Homo sapiens: one gene and its partner. Each later gene encodes a partner of the first gene's protein in a complex. Each region holds a gene or a part of one and is shown in the gene's direction. Other genes may lie near its edges.

What was found. Proteins that work in one complex are often made in the same cells at the same time.
Region 2: the proteins of SEC13 (region 1) and WDR59 are in contact, whole or in part, in a cryo-EM structure (PDB 7UHY), measured with the Homo sapiens proteins. Residues at the interface, in NP_899195.1 of Homo sapiens: Val4 (codon at 425), Ile5 (codon at 428), Asn6 (codon at 431), Thr7 (codon at 434), Val8 (codon at 437), Asp9 (codon at 440), Thr10 (codon at 443), His12 (codon at 449), Asp14 (codon at 455), Met15 (codon at 458), Ile16 (codon at 461), His17 (codon at 3,077), Asp18 (codon at 3,080), Ala19 (codon at 3,083), Gln20 (codon at 3,086), Met21 (codon at 3,089), Asp22 (codon at 3,092), Tyr23 (codon at 3,095), Tyr24 (codon at 3,098), Gly25 (codon at 3,101), Leu28 (codon at 3,110), Val42 (codon at 3,152), Pro59 (codon at 5,793), Trp61 (codon at 5,799), Gln62 (codon at 5,802), His67 (codon at 5,817), Pro68 (codon at 5,820), Tyr79 (codon at 5,853), Ser105 (codon at 5,931), Asn107 (codon at 6,417); in NP_085058.3 of Homo sapiens: Ala525, Tyr526, Gly527, Asp531, Ala532, Asn533, Ile534, Pro535, Phe536, Pro537, Arg538, Thr539, Ser540, Gly541, Ala542, Arg543, Phe544, Cys545, Gly546, Ala547, Tyr549, Val551, Phe553, Thr554, Arg555, Met557, Ala644, Gly645, Lys646, Val647.

What each region holds. Positions count from the first base shown.
Region 1 is NC_000003.12:10,310,674-10,318,512, reverse strand, and holds part of SEC13 (protein SEC13 homolog), read left to right. Parts: intron 1-418; coding exon 419-463; intron 464-3,076; coding exon 3,077-3,192; intron 3,193-5,782; coding exon 5,783-5,934; intron 5,935-6,414; coding exon 6,415-6,548; coding exon of another isoform or gene 6,549-6,683; exon of another isoform or gene 6,684-6,937; intron 6,938-7,839. UniProt on the Homo sapiens protein: Functions as a component of the nuclear pore complex (NPC) and the COPII coat. At the endoplasmic reticulum, SEC13 is involved in the biogenesis of COPII-coated vesicles.
Region 2 is NC_000016.10:74,883,768-74,891,606, reverse strand, and holds part of WDR59 (GATOR2 complex protein WDR59), read left to right. Parts: intron 1-1,791; coding exon 1,792-1,904; intron 1,905-3,287; coding exon 3,288-3,438; intron 3,439-3,851; coding exon 3,852-3,924; intron 3,925-5,210; coding exon 5,211-5,337; intron 5,338-5,811; coding exon 5,812-5,954; intron 5,955-7,839. UniProt on the Homo sapiens protein: As a component of the GATOR2 complex, functions as an activator of the amino acid-sensing branch of the mTORC1 signaling pathway. The GATOR2 complex indirectly activates mTORC1 through the inhibition of the GATOR1 subcomplex.

The sequences.
Region 1 (7,839 bases):
ACACACATCAGGCTCTCTCAGACCTCTTTGTCTCTACTCGTGTATTCCCTCTGCTTGGCTGCTTGGACTGGTATTTTCCCCTGTGCCACCTGCAAATTCCTACCCATCATCTAGGGCTCAATTCGTGTCTACCACCCCAGCCCCTCAGGCTCCTACAGGACACACAAACCACCATTAAATAATTTATCTTGCGACACTAGCATTATTCGCGAGCTTCTCAAGGGCAAAAAGTTCCTCTTATTTGTGTCTGTATATCCAGTTCCTAGCACAGTGCTTGGCAGAAAGAAGGTACTTAGAATGAATGCTTACTGAATGAATGAATGAATGAGTGAGTGAACAAACAAATGCAGTCAAGAACTTGAGATGGTTGTATTCTAACTGCCATGAGTTAATTTACCAGTGATATCTTTGGTTCTAGGTGTCAGTAATTAACACTGTGGATACCTCCCATGAGGACATGATTGTAAGTATTAATATCACCCTCCCTGGAGGGGTGTGGACATGGGCATTTTTGTGGGAGGGAAGCAATTTGGGGTTTTCATTACCCCTTTCTGTTGATCATTCATGGATCCAGGGTGGCTTTGCAGTGGTTGCCTATCAGCCTGTAATCTCGGGGTATGGCAGGCTCCCTAGCAGTGCCCTCTGAGTTGTCAGGACTGTGGCAGTCTAATCACTCTCTGCTGGGAGGAACCTGGGAATAATTTGTAGTTCTAGGCTGTCAGTCTTCCAGCCAATACAATAACCTGCTCTCGGATGAAGGCTGAGTGGGTACGGAGGCTTGACAATAGTCTTCCCACCTGTCTTCCTCCTGCTGTCACTTCTTAGCCCCACTGGAAAGGGGGGTGAAAAGAAGAGAGTGTAGAAAGATGACTCAATACAAAGGCAGAGGGCAGCCACAGTGAAAGCCCCAGGCAGAGCCCAGTCAAACCACCAAGACAATAGGCCAGACAAGGCCCTTTGAACCAGAAGTCCACACTCAGGGCATTTCCTGAGAGGTAAACACAAGGCTCAGTATAAGAGGACAGGGCTGCAGGAGAAGGTCCAGAGGTTAAAGTCTACCGCAGGAAAAACACAGACTCTGCTTCATTCAGGGCCAAGCAGCCTTTGAGCAAGACCCAGGACAGCTGGCTGACAGTGTTTCATGTCAGGGTTCTTGCCCTCACAACCTGTCCACCAACAGTTGCTTTTGGGTTTCTGAGAGGTTGTCTGGTCCCAGAGTTGTATATGTTCTCTGGATTCAGTCATGAGTGGTCTAGCTGTAAGACCACACCTCCTTGGAGATAGCATGGAATCATGGGCAGGAAGACCCAGTCTGAGACTCCCTAGCCAATATCTTAACTTTTCTGAGCCAGCCTCAATTTACTTACGGGAAAAATAATGGATATGCTACCTACTCGTATGAGTTTGGTTTGAGAACTAGATGAGGCCAAGTAGTAATGACAAACATTTGCATGCTCACTGAGTGTCAGGCCCCATGCTAAGTACTTTTCTTTTTTTTTTTTTTTTTTTTTGAGATGGAGTTTCGCTCTTGTAGCCCAGGCTGGCATGCAGTGGCGTGATCTCAGCTCACCGCAACCTACGCCTCCCGGGTTCAAGTAATTCTCCTGCCCCAGACTCCCGAGTAGCTGGGATTACAGGCGTGCGCCACCACTCCCAGCTAATTTTGTATTTTTAGTAGAGGCAAGTTTTCTCCATGTTGGTCAGGCTAGTCTCGAACTCCCGACCTCAGGTGATCCGCCCGCCTCAGCTTCCCAAAGTGCTGGGATTACAGGCGTGAGTTTTCATTCAATATCTTGTTTAACCTTCATAACAACTGTTGAGACAGATGCTATCTTTAGCCTTATTTAAAGATAAGGGAACTAAGGCCCATAGGATGTTGGTAAATAATAAAGATAAGGAAACTGAAGCTCAAGGAGATGAAGTGTTTTCAAAGTTTGCACAGCAGGTAAACTAAGGAGATAGGATTTAGATCTGAAAGGTACTATGTCCTGCCTCCTTCCACTGAGAAGCATGAGAAGTGCTTCAGAAACACTCCTCTACTGCCTGCCCTCCAAGAAACCAAGGCCTGATACAGTGGAGGGAGTTCCCAAAGAAAAATCAGGATGTGTTCCTTGCGTAGGGAGGTGAGAATTCCCATCTGAGCCAGACAGAATGAGTGCCTTTGAATGGGCATAATTGCCCCTGGTGGCCATGGGAGTGCAGCTGATAGTCCTGAAACTCCCAGGGTGGGACAGCTGGGGAAAGGGACATCCATTGGAATAGGCAGGGCCAGCAAGCAGAAGGGACCAGGGTGTTCAGTGGTGCAGGAGGCATGGTGCCTCAGAGACCATCACCCTGCGGACAAGGATCTGCAGGTAGGGGCCAGGCCTAGTTCTGCATGCTCAGTCAGCATCAAGGAATTCGGTTCACAAGTGGTGAGAGCAGCGACACTTAAGGCATTGTGTTCCTTGGGTGGAAAGTCTGGGAAGCTCTGGGCACACTACTAGGGAAAAGGTCGAGCAGAAGCCCCAAAACAAAGGTCCACAAAGGATCCAGGGCCAGGGCTGGAAAGAGCCCAAATATCTGAATGGAACCCTGTGTGCAGGCCAGAGCTGCATCACAGAAGACCTGACTGGGGACTCCAGGCAGTCAGAGGCCCACTCCTTTGGCCTGCTCCCATGCATTAGCATCAGGTGCTAGGGCTGAGCTGAACCCAGGGGTATTCCCCTTTAGCCCACAGAGCCTAAGAACTGAATAGGGCCTGAGAGGATGGAGGAAGAAGAGGGCAGCTAGGCCAACTTTTTTTCTCCCATACCCACCCTGCGGAACAGGAATGGAAGAGCCCTTCCCTGAGGTATGTAAAGGGTCTGTGACACCAGCTGGGCATGGCTTGCTTTGTCCATTTCAGAGAGACACTGCCCATAGGTGAAGTGAGAATGTCCACATGCTAGCTTCCTGCCTGAGGGTGATGATACTTTGAGATCAGATTGATTTCAGGGAGATTCTGGTCCAAACTAGACTCTGTGTAGTGACAGCCCTCACCCCACCCACCCACCCACCCAGCCTGCAGGCTTCCCGAGCTGTCCTCCCTTTGCAGCACGACGCCCAGATGGACTACTATGGCACCCGCCTGGCAACCTGCTCATCAGACAGGTCCGTCAAAATCTTTGATGTGCGCAATGGAGGGCAGATCCTTATCGCCGACCTCAGGGGGTAAGTGCTGGCGAGCCCAGGGAAGGGCTCCAGGAATGGTGTGGGTTCTCAGGCCCTGCTTCAAGCGTGGGAGCAAAGCATGGGAGCCCAGATTCAGAGCAACCCCAAAGCACATTTAGCGGAGAGGACGCTGGGATCCCAGCCAGCCTGGCTGTCCTCAGCGGACGTCCCCAGGGATGATGCTGTTAAGGGCACAGGTGGATACAGGTGTGAATCTCAGCTCTGCCACTTTATGTGTACCCACCAGAAGACCTTGGGCAAGTGACTCAGTTTCTCTCTCAGAGCCTTCATCTGCTCATCCTCAAAATTGGGCCAATGCTACCTCCTATCCAGCTAGTGTATGCAAGGCCCTGACACAGGGCCCAGGACACAGTAAGTCTTTAGTGCAGGCAGCTACTGCTACTTTTAAAAGTGGTAAACAGTACCATTTCGTTCAAGTTTAGCCAGTATGACCTAAAGTGTCACAAAAGCATCACCGTAAGAATAATGTAAGAATGCTATCATTTTATAAATCCCATTGTTCTGCCTATATGCCCGTGGCACGTGTTCAGTGATTATTTACAAATGTTTGACCTGCCCTGCTCCCTACTGAGATTCTTGAGGAAGTCCTGGCTCATTTTTATGGCCACATCTCTACTGCTTTCCCTCAGCTCACTGCCTTTCACGTATTTGTGGGTTTGCCTGGGTGCCGTGGATCTCCAAGGGTTCTGTGAATAGAGTTCAGGGGTTGATGAATTGGGACAGGGGGAAAAAAATGCATTTTCAGTGACTCTGATATTTAGCATTTCCTTCAATTATGGATGTAGGCCAGAAACTTCAGTAGTATTTGTAGTGCCTGTCACTTTGTCACCAGTAGAATTCACAGATATTGTCATCACACATCACGGTTACTTAGCTACCTCAAAATACCACTTATGCTCATCACAACTTTGAAATTACAGTGGTTATTAGACCTGCCGCTAGGGTTTGTTGCTTGAAGTGTTAACAAAGAAGTACATGCATCACTATCTCATAAATTGCTTTATAATATTTTGATAACAGGCTGGGCAAGGTGGCTCACGCCTGTAATCCTTAACACTTTGGGAGGCTGAGGTGGGAGGATGGCCTGAGCCTAGGAGTTTGAGGCTGCAGTGAGCCACGATGGTGCCACTGCACTGCAGCCTGGATGACAGGGTGAAACCCTTCTCAAAAAAAAAAAGTTGATTACTGTATAATTTATAATTGAATTTTCTTTATAAGCCTAGTTCTGTGTGTTTTGTACATTAGTCTGATGAGGGTCCATAACCTTCCCCAGAATGCACAGAAAAGATTAAGAGCCATGACAGGTGGGTGCTCAGCATGTGTTTGTTCACTGAATTAAAAAGCATAAACTAAGTCAGTGTCCATTTGGGGAAATGGGCCTAGAAGCTCCCCTCTGTCTGAGTGTCAAATGATCAAGTGACTGAGGAGCCAAATCAAGCTTCTCTATGCAGGAGCCCCCCAGGCAGGCAGAGAGCTGCTGCAGTGCAGCGTGTTGGCCAAGGCAGTTATGTTTGCTGTGACTCTGTCCTTTCTGCTGTTTTTCTTACATTCAAAGGATGTGAAATATTGGAGGGATAAAAAAAATTCCCACCCCATTCTTTTTTCCCCTTAGTAAAAACTGTGCTAGTTGTTGGAAGATTGAGTCTACTCAGTTTCATTAGCAGCAGCTTTGTAGGGACTGGGAATGTCCTGTTGTCCCAGCCAGAGGGAGGAGGAGACTTGAGTGTGTGCAGCCCACGGTGAAGGAGTAAACCAGGAGCAGCACTAATAGCTAATGGGTATTGAGTGGCTTTTTTCTTTCCTTCTACCAAGCATTGTTCCAAACTTTATGAAAGAATTCTTATTGATGTCTCCATTTTCAGGTAAAGAGACAAAGATATCCTTGCCTAAAGTCAAGAGCTAGTGAATGGGAGAATGGGTCTGGTCTCCTAACCACTAACTCTACCATGCTACTCTACCTCTTGAGTGCTAAGGTGCAAAACCTTCCCTGGGCCAGAGAAATGGTCACCGTACAAAGCCTGGCACAGAGCATGTGCTCAGATAGCACCTGTTATCAGGTGAATGGATAAAGATCAGAAGAGAAGGGAAAGACATGCCTTTCGAACAAATTAAAAGAGTAGTGGAAAACATCAAAATGAAACCAATAATGCCTCCTCAGGAAGCTGACCGTCGGGAAGGATGAATAGCAATTCAGTCTACAAATATTTCCTGAACACTTCTGGCTGGAAACCTTGGACCAATTAATGACTATGCTGTAGACAGCACATACAGACAGTGCTGGCTGCAGTCTGGGCAAGTGAGGCTCCTGCCTGGCCAGGACAGGAAGGCTGACCCAGAGGCTCAACTCTCTCTCAAAGGCTCTGTGACCTTAGGTTGCTTAACCTCTTAGGACCTCAGGCTCCTCACTGTCCACTGAGCACCCCTTTTGCAATGGCATTGTATAGTTCTCCCTTTGAAGTTCTTAAGCAATTCTGCCCTGATATATCGTCTCAGGGAGCCATTTAGTTCTGTCCAAAGTAGTGCCTGCAGAGGCACTGTGGGTTCCTCTGGCCTATCTCTCCCTTTGTAGTCATGAGGGTCCTGTGTGGCAAGTGGCCTGGGCTCACCCCATGTACGGCAACATCCTGGCATCGTGCTCCTATGACCGGAAAGTCATTATCTGGAGAGAGGAAAACGGCACCTGGGAGAAGAGCCACGAGCATGCGGGACACGACTCCTCAGGTATGCTGAGCTTGGCAGCAGAGCGGGCAAGGGGACCACTGGGTAAAAAAGGACTCTGTCCCGGCTGGAGCCCTGGCTCCCTGCCCCTCGTGGTGCCTCTTGTCTGTCTCTTGAGCTTTGGTTGGCTTTTCTGCTACTCTGTCCTCAGCTGAGTAAGGCCCTAAGACCTAAAGCCAGTCCAAAGCAAATAAGAAAAGACAGGTGAGTTTCTCTTCAGGATTATTCATTGCAAGGACTACCCTTCATTCTCAGATTGTTTTCCTACCCACTTTTTTGTTAGATAGACTGTAGGTTATGAAATCGTGGTATTAGTAGGTGATGGGGTTTTTTTGTGTCCTCAGTTGACCAAGTTACAGCTTCCCCCGGTGACTCCTACAGTTGTTTGTTGTAGACATTTAGTAAAACAGTAAATCTGTGGAAGGCGGGACCTGGGGCCGCGGTCTCCCTGCTTTGCTCACTGCACTCTCCCTCTTCCCGCAGTGAACTCGGTGTGCTGGGCCCCCCATGACTACGGCCTGATCCTGGCCTGTGGGAGCTCGGATGGGGCCATCTCCCTGCTGACTTACACCGGGGAAGGCCAATGGGAAGTAAAGAAGATCAACAACGCTCACACCGTGAGTCCATCCCCTGCCTTTCGTGCAGTGAGAGCGCCTGCCTTGCCCCGTGTCTGCTGCAGCCTCCCTAGAGGGTGGCACGGGAGGGTCCCCGCTGGACAGTGGGCCGGGGAGTGGTCAGCTGACCAGACATGATTGCTCTAGAGCAGCTTTGAGCCTCTCTGCCCTGAAGCCAGACCAGGCAGGGCTTGGCACTGCTTCCTTGTTGTGTGCTCCCAAGCAGGGGAGGGCTGGTGCAGCAGCAGCCTGCTCACTGCCACCTTAGCTATGGTTGCCTCCAGGTGACATGCCCTGCAGTAGTCATTGGGACCCTGTAGAATGGAGTGGTGTTATTAAAACTTTTAAAAAGTATGTGAGCTATGCATACATTTAAGAAAGATTAATATAAACAAGGTCATTCTTTACCCAACTTTTGGTGAATCAGCGAGTGACAGTGGTCGTGATGTTGGTGGTTCAATCAAGGAATAAATGTTTGCAAAGCGAACATCAATGTCCTACCTCCTACCACCACACAGTTCAAAAACCAACAATAACCAATGTGGGGGGCTCATATGACTAATGCCACATCGTTTGCTGTCATGCATCTGTATGATTATTGGATATTTTATGAGTTTAATTCTACAATAATTTGTATCTATTCTTTTTCTAATCTACTCATTCCAGTTCAGGGTCACAGGTGGTTGGAGCCTGTCCTGGCAGCTTAGGGCATGAGGCAGAAGCCAGCCCTGGACAGGATACCATTCCACCAGAGGAGCACTCACACACACCCCCACACTCACACTGGGACAATGCAGACGTACCATTGAAGTGAACATGCACATCTTTATTGTGTGAAAGGAAACCAGAGTACCAGGAGAGAGCCCACGCAGACACAGGGAGAACACACAGACTCCACACAGGCAGGGGCCCCCGCTGGGAGTTGTTTTTTTTTTTTTAATCTTGTCAGCATTATAATGAAATGAAATTGAGGATCAGTTGTACATAGAATGAGACAATCTGTGGTCTTTTGTGACTGGCTTCTCCTACTTACTATAATGAGTTCAAGTTTCATCCATATCATAGCGTGTATCAGCACTCCATTCCTTTTTATGGCTGGATAATACTCCATTGTGAATATAGACATTTTGTTTATCCATTCATCAGATGATGGATGTTCTCGGCCTTATGAATAATGCTGCTATGAACATTTGCAGATAAGTTTTTGCATGAACATATGTTTTTAATTCTCTTGGGTCTATACCTAGGTGTGAAATTGCTGAGTCATATGGTAATTCTGTGTTTAACTTTTTGA
Region 2 (7,839 bases), on another chromosome or scaffold:
TACTGTTTTGCAAAGAGTTGCAGAAGTAAATGCAAGAGTCACTGTTTCTGTTGAAGGCATTCAGGAAATGTGTATTATCAGTGAGGAAATAACACGTCTAAATTGTCAGCCAGGGTAGTAAACATCTTATCTCATCCCAGAAAGTCATTAACTTCCTCTAGTGCTGATTCACTAGGTTATTGATTATAGAGATGAATGTGAACTTCAAGTTTCTCCTTTTCGACAATACCTTCTGTATATTTTTCAAGTATGTTGGTGCCACGTGATTTAATTGATTTTGCATGCCTAATGCTTCTCGACCTGTTTCTCAGTATCTTTGTTTGCTTATTCTTTCTCCTTAGATTGTAAACTCCTTGATTCAAAGTCCATATCTTCTTTCTTTTGAGCATCTCAGAGTCTAGTATGTTTTCCAGTTAATGGGCATACAATGCTGTGCTGCTACTGAGAAAGGTTTTCCAGAAAATAGTATTTGATTTTTTTTTTTTTTTTTTTTTGAGACAGAGTCTCGCTCTGTCGCCCAGGCTGGAGTGCAGGGCGTGATCTCGGCTCACTGCAACCTCTGCCTCCCAGGTTCAAGAGATTCTTCTGCCTCAGCCTCCCAAGTAGCTGGGACTACAGGCGTGTGCCACCATGCCCAGCTAATTTTTGTATCTTTAGTAGAGACAGGGTTTCACCATATTGGCCAGGCTGGTCTCGTACTCCTGACCTGGTGATTCGCCCACCTCAGCCTCCCAAAGTGCTGAGATTACAGGCGTGAGCCACAGGGCCCGCCGTATTTGATTTTTAAAGGTATTGAGGGGGTGGGAACTTTGCTTATGACATGATGGGTTTAGCCTGTGCCTTGGACTTAATAGACACTTAGAGGCTATTGGTTTCTGCTCAATGGCTCCAGGCCCCATGGGATTTCAAGTCGGGGAGGTATTCCTCAGATTTGGTGTCAACAAAAAGAAAGCCAAATCCATTTTGTCTTGGCCTATTGTTATTATTGTTACTTTTTAGCTTCAGAGAGGATACTGAAACTTTTATAATGAAGGCAACAAAGTCTTTCATTATTTAGGAAAAGAGGGACAGATCTTAAATGTGTTATAGACTGCCTTTTTTTTCCTCCCTGCCAACCCAACTTACTGATGAAACAGCATTTTAAAAAGTCATGTGAGGCCGGGTGCAGTGGCTCACACCTGTAATCCCAGCACTTTTTGGGGCTGAGGCAGGTGGATCACTTGAGTCCAGGAGTTCCAGACCAGCCTGGCCAACATGGCAAAACCCCATCTCTACTGAAAATACAAAAATTAGCCAGGTGTGGTGGCACATGCCTGTGATCCTAGATACTCGGGAGGCTGAGGCAGGAGGATGGCTTGAACCCAGGAGGCAGAGGTGGCAGTGAGCTGTGATTGTGCCACGGCACTCCAGCCTGGGCGACAGAGCGAGACTCTGTCTCAAAAAAGTAAAATAAAATAAAAAGTCATATGAGTTAGTGGTTAAGTAGATGACCCACTGAAATTATTACACTGTGTCATTTCTCTGATGTTTGCTTAATGAAAAATTTTTAAGCCTAGTGTTTCTCAAACTTTAGAGTGCACATAACTCCCCTAAAGAGTTGGTTAAAGTGTAAACGCTGATTCAGTAGGTCTAAGTGGGGCCTAAACTTATGCATTTCAATAAGGATCCAGCTTTTGCTGCCCCCAATGTAGCAAGGCATCAGGTTTTATATGGAAGACAGGTGGGATTGCTTCATGGTTTCGGTTCTTGTCCTTGCCAGTTTGAGTTTGTATTTCTCTTTGATCTGTCCAGGTTTGGTCGCTGGCTACGGTAGCTACAGATCTTTGCCTTGGTCCGAAATCTGACCCAGATTTGGAAACACCCTGGGCTCGACATCCATTTGGGCGGCAGCTGCTGGAGTCCCTGTAGGTTTTGAGAGCTAAAAATGAGAAAAATGAGTGATGTCCATTTTTGGTCTGTAAACACTTGAAATGTCACCACCTAAGAGAAAGGTGCAGAGGCCCGAGGAATGAAAGGAAGGAGTAGGATCTTTCCTTTCAGTGCTGAAATAATTTCTGTGCAGAACAAACTTCTTATAGCAGACAGAACCATACATTACTTGTCATTTATAACAAGGATTTGAGACCCCTGAGACTCATGTATCCTTTAGAGATTCATGCTTTAGTCCATAAATCACATCAGTCTGAATACAGGAGTTTGAGCTCATGAGATGGTAAGTTTCTTCTTGAAAGCTCTAGGGTCTCACCCTTGAGAATGGATTAGAGAATTGCATGTTGGTGTTCATGTTTGCCAAAGACCACGACGCTTTCACCCTGTTAGGCAATTTGAGAAAACATTGCCTTTGCGTTCAGTTTATTGCACTGACATATGGAAAACTAGGGTATACTATACAAAATAATTTAACACCAAGTAAAACCACTTGAATCTCCATAACTTGGAGGCCCAGGGCCTGGGGAGAGAAACGCTCCTGACTTCAAGTTGAAGTTTGCTTAATTTATGCATTAAGGCCACCCCTGGGACACGTGTTCGTGCTTCCGTTTCCTTGTCACTAACACAGGGATGATAAGGTTTACTCTACTTATTTCGTGTAAGACTCAAATAAGATAGTGAGTGTGAAAACACAAATATTAGACATTGAGTGATAGGAGGACATTAATATTATTCATTCTTAAAGGCAAAGCCCCTCTGATTCCTTACTCACATTCTAGCATAATCTTCCTGAAAGGACAAAGGGGATATGAGTACCTAAAGGACAGAAACACTCCTTGTTGTTCTTACCTAATAGCTCATCTTCATAACTGCACCTCCAGAGTCGATTGCCTGCTAGCATGCTGTGGCGGTCCAGTGTCCTCTGAGCTCCTTCATGTAGCTTTAGGTTATATAAATGACATGTGTGGGAATCCCCCAAAAGCAGTGTGATTCTTCCTTGGAGCTGGGAAGACAGAGCATGTATTGGCTCGCTCAGATGTCAGGTTAGTCCACTTAGTTCTTGGAGAAGCCACATTCATGTTTAAGCCCATGCCTGAAAGTTAGCCAGAGGCTTTGAGATGCGTTCTGTAGATCATTTGTAGTACGTGGATGCCTTATATTCCAAAACAAGTTTAGGCAAACTCAAAGTAGGTCAAACTGCCGGATCTGTAGAAAGCCCCATTTCCTGATGGGTTTTTGAGGCAGAATCAAGACTCCTCCCTTCCCACCCCTGTGGCAGTAACACGCCATGACTGTGACCGCTTTCCTCCTCAATCCCTCCTCCTGACTTGTTTTCTTTCCTCTTATCTTTTCCTCAGGTTGGCTCACTATTGCCGGCTCCGGGATGTTCAGACACTGGCGATGCTCTGTAGCGTGTTTGAAGCCCAGTCTCGGCCTCAGGGGCTACCAAACCCCTTTGGGCCTTTTCCTAACCGTTCTTCTAATCTTGTGGTGTCCCATAGTCGATATGTAAGTTTGTCCTTTTCTGGTTTTGTCTGATTTTTTTTTTTTTTTTTTTTTGAGACGGAGTTTTACTTTGTTGCCCAGGCTGGAGTGCAATGGCATGATCTCAGCTCACTGCAACCTCCGCCTCCTGGGTTCAAGCAATTCTCGTGCCTCAGCCTCCTGAATAGCTGGGATTACAGGCATGCACCACCACTCTTGGTATATTTTTGTGGTTTTAGTAGAGATGAGGTTTCACCATGTTGGCCAGGCTGGTCTCGAACCCCTGACCTCAGGTGTTCCACCTTCCTTGGCCTCCCAAACTGCTAGGATTACAGGCATGAGCCACCGTGCTTGGCCTGCTGTTTTCTTAATGTGAACTGTCATGGGGAATGGTATTCTCATGCTAGTCCTGTTGGTTCTTCTCTTCCCTTCTGTAGCCTAGCTTTACCTCTTCTGGTTCCTGCTCCAGTATGTCAGACCCAGGGCTCAACACTGGCGGCTGGAACATAGGTTTGTATGGAAATGACTTAGCCCACGCTGGATTTTTAGTTCTCCCAGAGCTGTGCATATGTAACCTTTAGTTGATGCTTAGTCTCCATATTTTTTCTTATTTCTTATTTCTCTTTACATTTACTGTGATAGGGATACTCTTGCTGGAGGCCTGACTTTGCATGTTGAACAGACCACGTTCTGGGGGTCTTTGTGCCTTGCTGTGTTGCTTTTCATCTCTTAACCTTGAGAAACTGACAATGGGACTTCCCACTGTTCACCCCCAAAACCTAACCCTTATCCTTTCTCCTTCACATGCTCTTTCCATGTTCATCTGCCACCTACCGCTTCCCATGAATGCTTTCAGTGTAGACAAATACAGCTGGGCCTGACTCCAGTTGATCATAAAGCTGTTTGCTGAGTAAGGTGTATTTGTGTTTCCTGGATTTAAAAAAAAAAAGGTTTTTAAAATGATCTTAATTTTCCTGATATCAAAAGTAGCTCATGCCCAGTGAAGAAAAGCAAGCAAAAAGTATTAGAGAAGAAAATTGTAATTATTGATCTCCCACCTAGGAATAGCGTCCATTAACATTCTAGAACATTTGCATCCATTCTTTGTGTGCAGGAGTGTGGTCATTTGATATATGTGACTTTGTGTTCTATTTTTCATTATATCATGAGCAAATATTGTTCAAAAAGTCCTCGTAAATAATGACTATGTAATGTTCTACTGTATCTCTGTGCCATCATTTGCTTTATTTATTTATTTTTTTTAGTTTTTTGAGATGGACTCTTGCTCTGTCGCCAGGCTGGAGTGCAATGGCATGATCTCGGCTCACTGCCCCCTCTGCCTCCCAGGTTCGAGCGATTCTCCTGCCTCAGCCTCCTGAGTAGCTGGGATTGCAGGCACGCACCAGTACGCCCAGCTAATTTTTGTATTTTTTTAAGTAAAGACATAATTTCACTATGTTCGTCAGGCTGGTCTCAAACCTCTGACCTCAGGTGATCTGCCTGCCTGGGCCTCCAAAAGTGCTGGGATTCCAGGCATGAGCCACAACGCCCAGCCCATCATTTGCGTTAGCATCATGTGTGTGTACTTAGTGATCAAGTTCTCTTAGTAATAAATACCTGCGCAAAAAGGCAAGGGTAGGAGAGAGTTCTATTTAGTTATATTTCTCAGAATATTCAGCCTCGCTTAACATTTCTTCTGGGAAATCCATTGGCCACGTGCTGTCTTATGAGACTCTTCAGATATTTTCCATGCCTTCTCTGATTGCCATCTTCCCTTCCCATTTGATTTTCTTCAGCGGGAAGAGAGGCAGAGCACTTGTCCTCCCCTTGGGGAGAATCCTCACCAGAAGAGCTCCGCTTTGGGAGTCTGACCTACAGTGATCCCCGTGAGCGAGAACGCGACCAGCATGATAAAAATAAAAGGTAACCACCCTCCCAGGTGAGAGCTGCAATGCCAGGACTCCAGGCAGGACTCCAGTTTCTCCACAATCACAACTCTTACTTTTTTTTTTTTTGGACACAGAATCTTACCCGGTCACTAGGTTGGAGTGCAGTGGCGGGATCTCGGCTCTCTGCAACCTCTGCTTCCCAGGCTCAAGTGATTCTCCTGCCTCAGCCTCCTGAGTAGCTGGGATTACAGGCACACGCCACCATGACTGGCTAATTTTTTGTATTTTTAGTACAGACAGGGTTTCACCATGTTGGCCAGGCTGGTCTCAAACTCCTGACCTCAAGTGATCCACCCGCCTCAGCCTCCCAAAGTGCTGGGAGTGACAGGTGTTAGCCACCGTGCCTGGCCAGGACTGTTGCTTTAAGAAGGGTATATTAAGTGCCATTTAGGATGAAGCTTGTTTTTTCTTAAAGGAACTGACAGGAAATCTTTTTAACTTTATCCAGGCTCCTGGACCCCGCCAATACCCAGCAATTTGATGACTTTAAGAAATGCTATGGGGAAATCCTCTACCGTTGGGGTCTGAGAGAGAAGCGAGCTGAAGTGTTGAAGTTTGTCTCCTGTCCTCCTGACCCTCACAAAGGGATCGGTGAGTATGAATTTCTCTCTCTTCCTTTCACTGTCTGAAAGATCCTGTAATTTAATATGTCCACAGCCTCAGACTTGGAATGAAGTTTCAGCTTCTCATTTCTAAGCAGAAATTTCTGAGGCATTTTGAGTCTATTCCAAGCATCTGAAAAGCCCTTGCATTTCGTAACAGGATGAATTTTTTTTTTTTTTTTTTTTTTTTTTTGAGATGGAATCTCACTCTTGTTGCCCAGGCTGGAGTGCAGTGGCGTGATCTCAGCTCACTGAACCTCTGCCTTCTGGGTTCTAACTTCTCCTCCCTAAGCCTCCCGAGTAGCTGAGACTACAGGCGCCTGCCACCATGCCTGGCTAATTTTTGTGCTTTTAGTAGATGGGGTTTTACCACGTTGGCCAGGCTGGTCTCGAACTCCTGACCTCAGGTGATCTGCCTGCCTCGGCCTCCCAAAGTGCTGGGATTACAGGTGTGAGCCATGGCGCATGCCCAGGATGCAGTTTCTATTGCAACAGAAGTAGTTGATATACAGTACTCCAGCGCGGATGAGAGGGATGGATATTTCTTCATTTATTCCACTGTGTGTCCGACTCCTCTTAGGCACAGTGCCCACACATTCCTTCCCCCCATGGAGCTTACAGCTGAGTAGGGGGGAAAATTAAGTAATTTCAAATTGTGATAAATATTCGCAAGCAAACAGAAACGATGTGGGGGCAGGGAGAACAGAGAGGGAGAATCTTAGAAGAGGAATTGAGGTGTGTTGAGAAGGCCTCCAAGGAGCTGAGGTCTGAAGGTTTAAAGGAACCGTGGAGCCATCGGTGCAGAGTGGTGAAAAGAGCATCCCACACTGAGGGACAGGCCCCAGGGAAATGACTGTCGTTGTGAACAAGCGAAGGAAGGTGGCGTGGTGTGGTTGGAGTACAGTGGGGAGAAGAGTGATATCAAATTAGAGTGTAGAGAACTTAGGGTTATATCAGGCAGGGGCTTGTAAGTTGCGGTAAAGAATTTGGATTTGGCCGGACGTGGTGACTTACGCCTGTAATCCCAGCACTTTGGGAGGCCAAGTCAGGCAGATCACTTGAGGCCAGGGGTTTGAGACCAGCCTGGCCAACATGGTGAAACCCCGTCTCTACTAAAAATACGAAATTAGCCAGGCGTGCTAGTGCACACCTATAATCCCAGCTACTCAGGAGGCTGAGGCAGGAGAATCGCTTGAACCCAGGAGGCAGAGGTGGCAGTGAGCCAAGATCACGCCACTGCACTCCAGCCTGGGTGACAGAGCGAGACTCTGTCTCAAAAAACAAAAAGAATTTCAATTGTATCCAAGTCCAATGGTAAGCTTCCAAGGGCATAAGAAGTAAGCAGTGTGCTTTGGGTTGTGTTTTAAGAGGGTCACTGTGGCCTTCCTACGAGGAAAGGATGGGAGGAGGGCAGATCAGAAATAGGAAGCCCGTTCAGAGACGTTGTAGCGGTCAGAGGCAGACAGCCCGGTCTGAGGGTGGCATCGCTAGAGTTGGAGAGAGATGATGGATGGGTTAAAATATATTTTAGAGCTAGACTCAGTGTGACTTGTTTATAACTTGGATGTGGGATCAGGAAGAAAGATGAAACTTGGACGATTCCTAGATTTCCAGCATGAGCAACTGGGTCATTGGCAGTACCAGCTTCCCAGATGGAAACGACTGGAAGAACACTGTGGGCTTAGGTTGGGATAGTCAGTGATGTGTGTGAGATATCGGACTGGAGAAGTTGCATAGGCGGTTGGATGTGAGTTGGGCTCTCAGAGAAGAGATTGGGGCTAGAACTGGGAATTTGGGGATCCCCAGCATGTGGATGGCATTCCAGCTGTGGGAATGGGTGTGTTGACCCTGGAGCTGGGGCTGGGAAGGAAGAG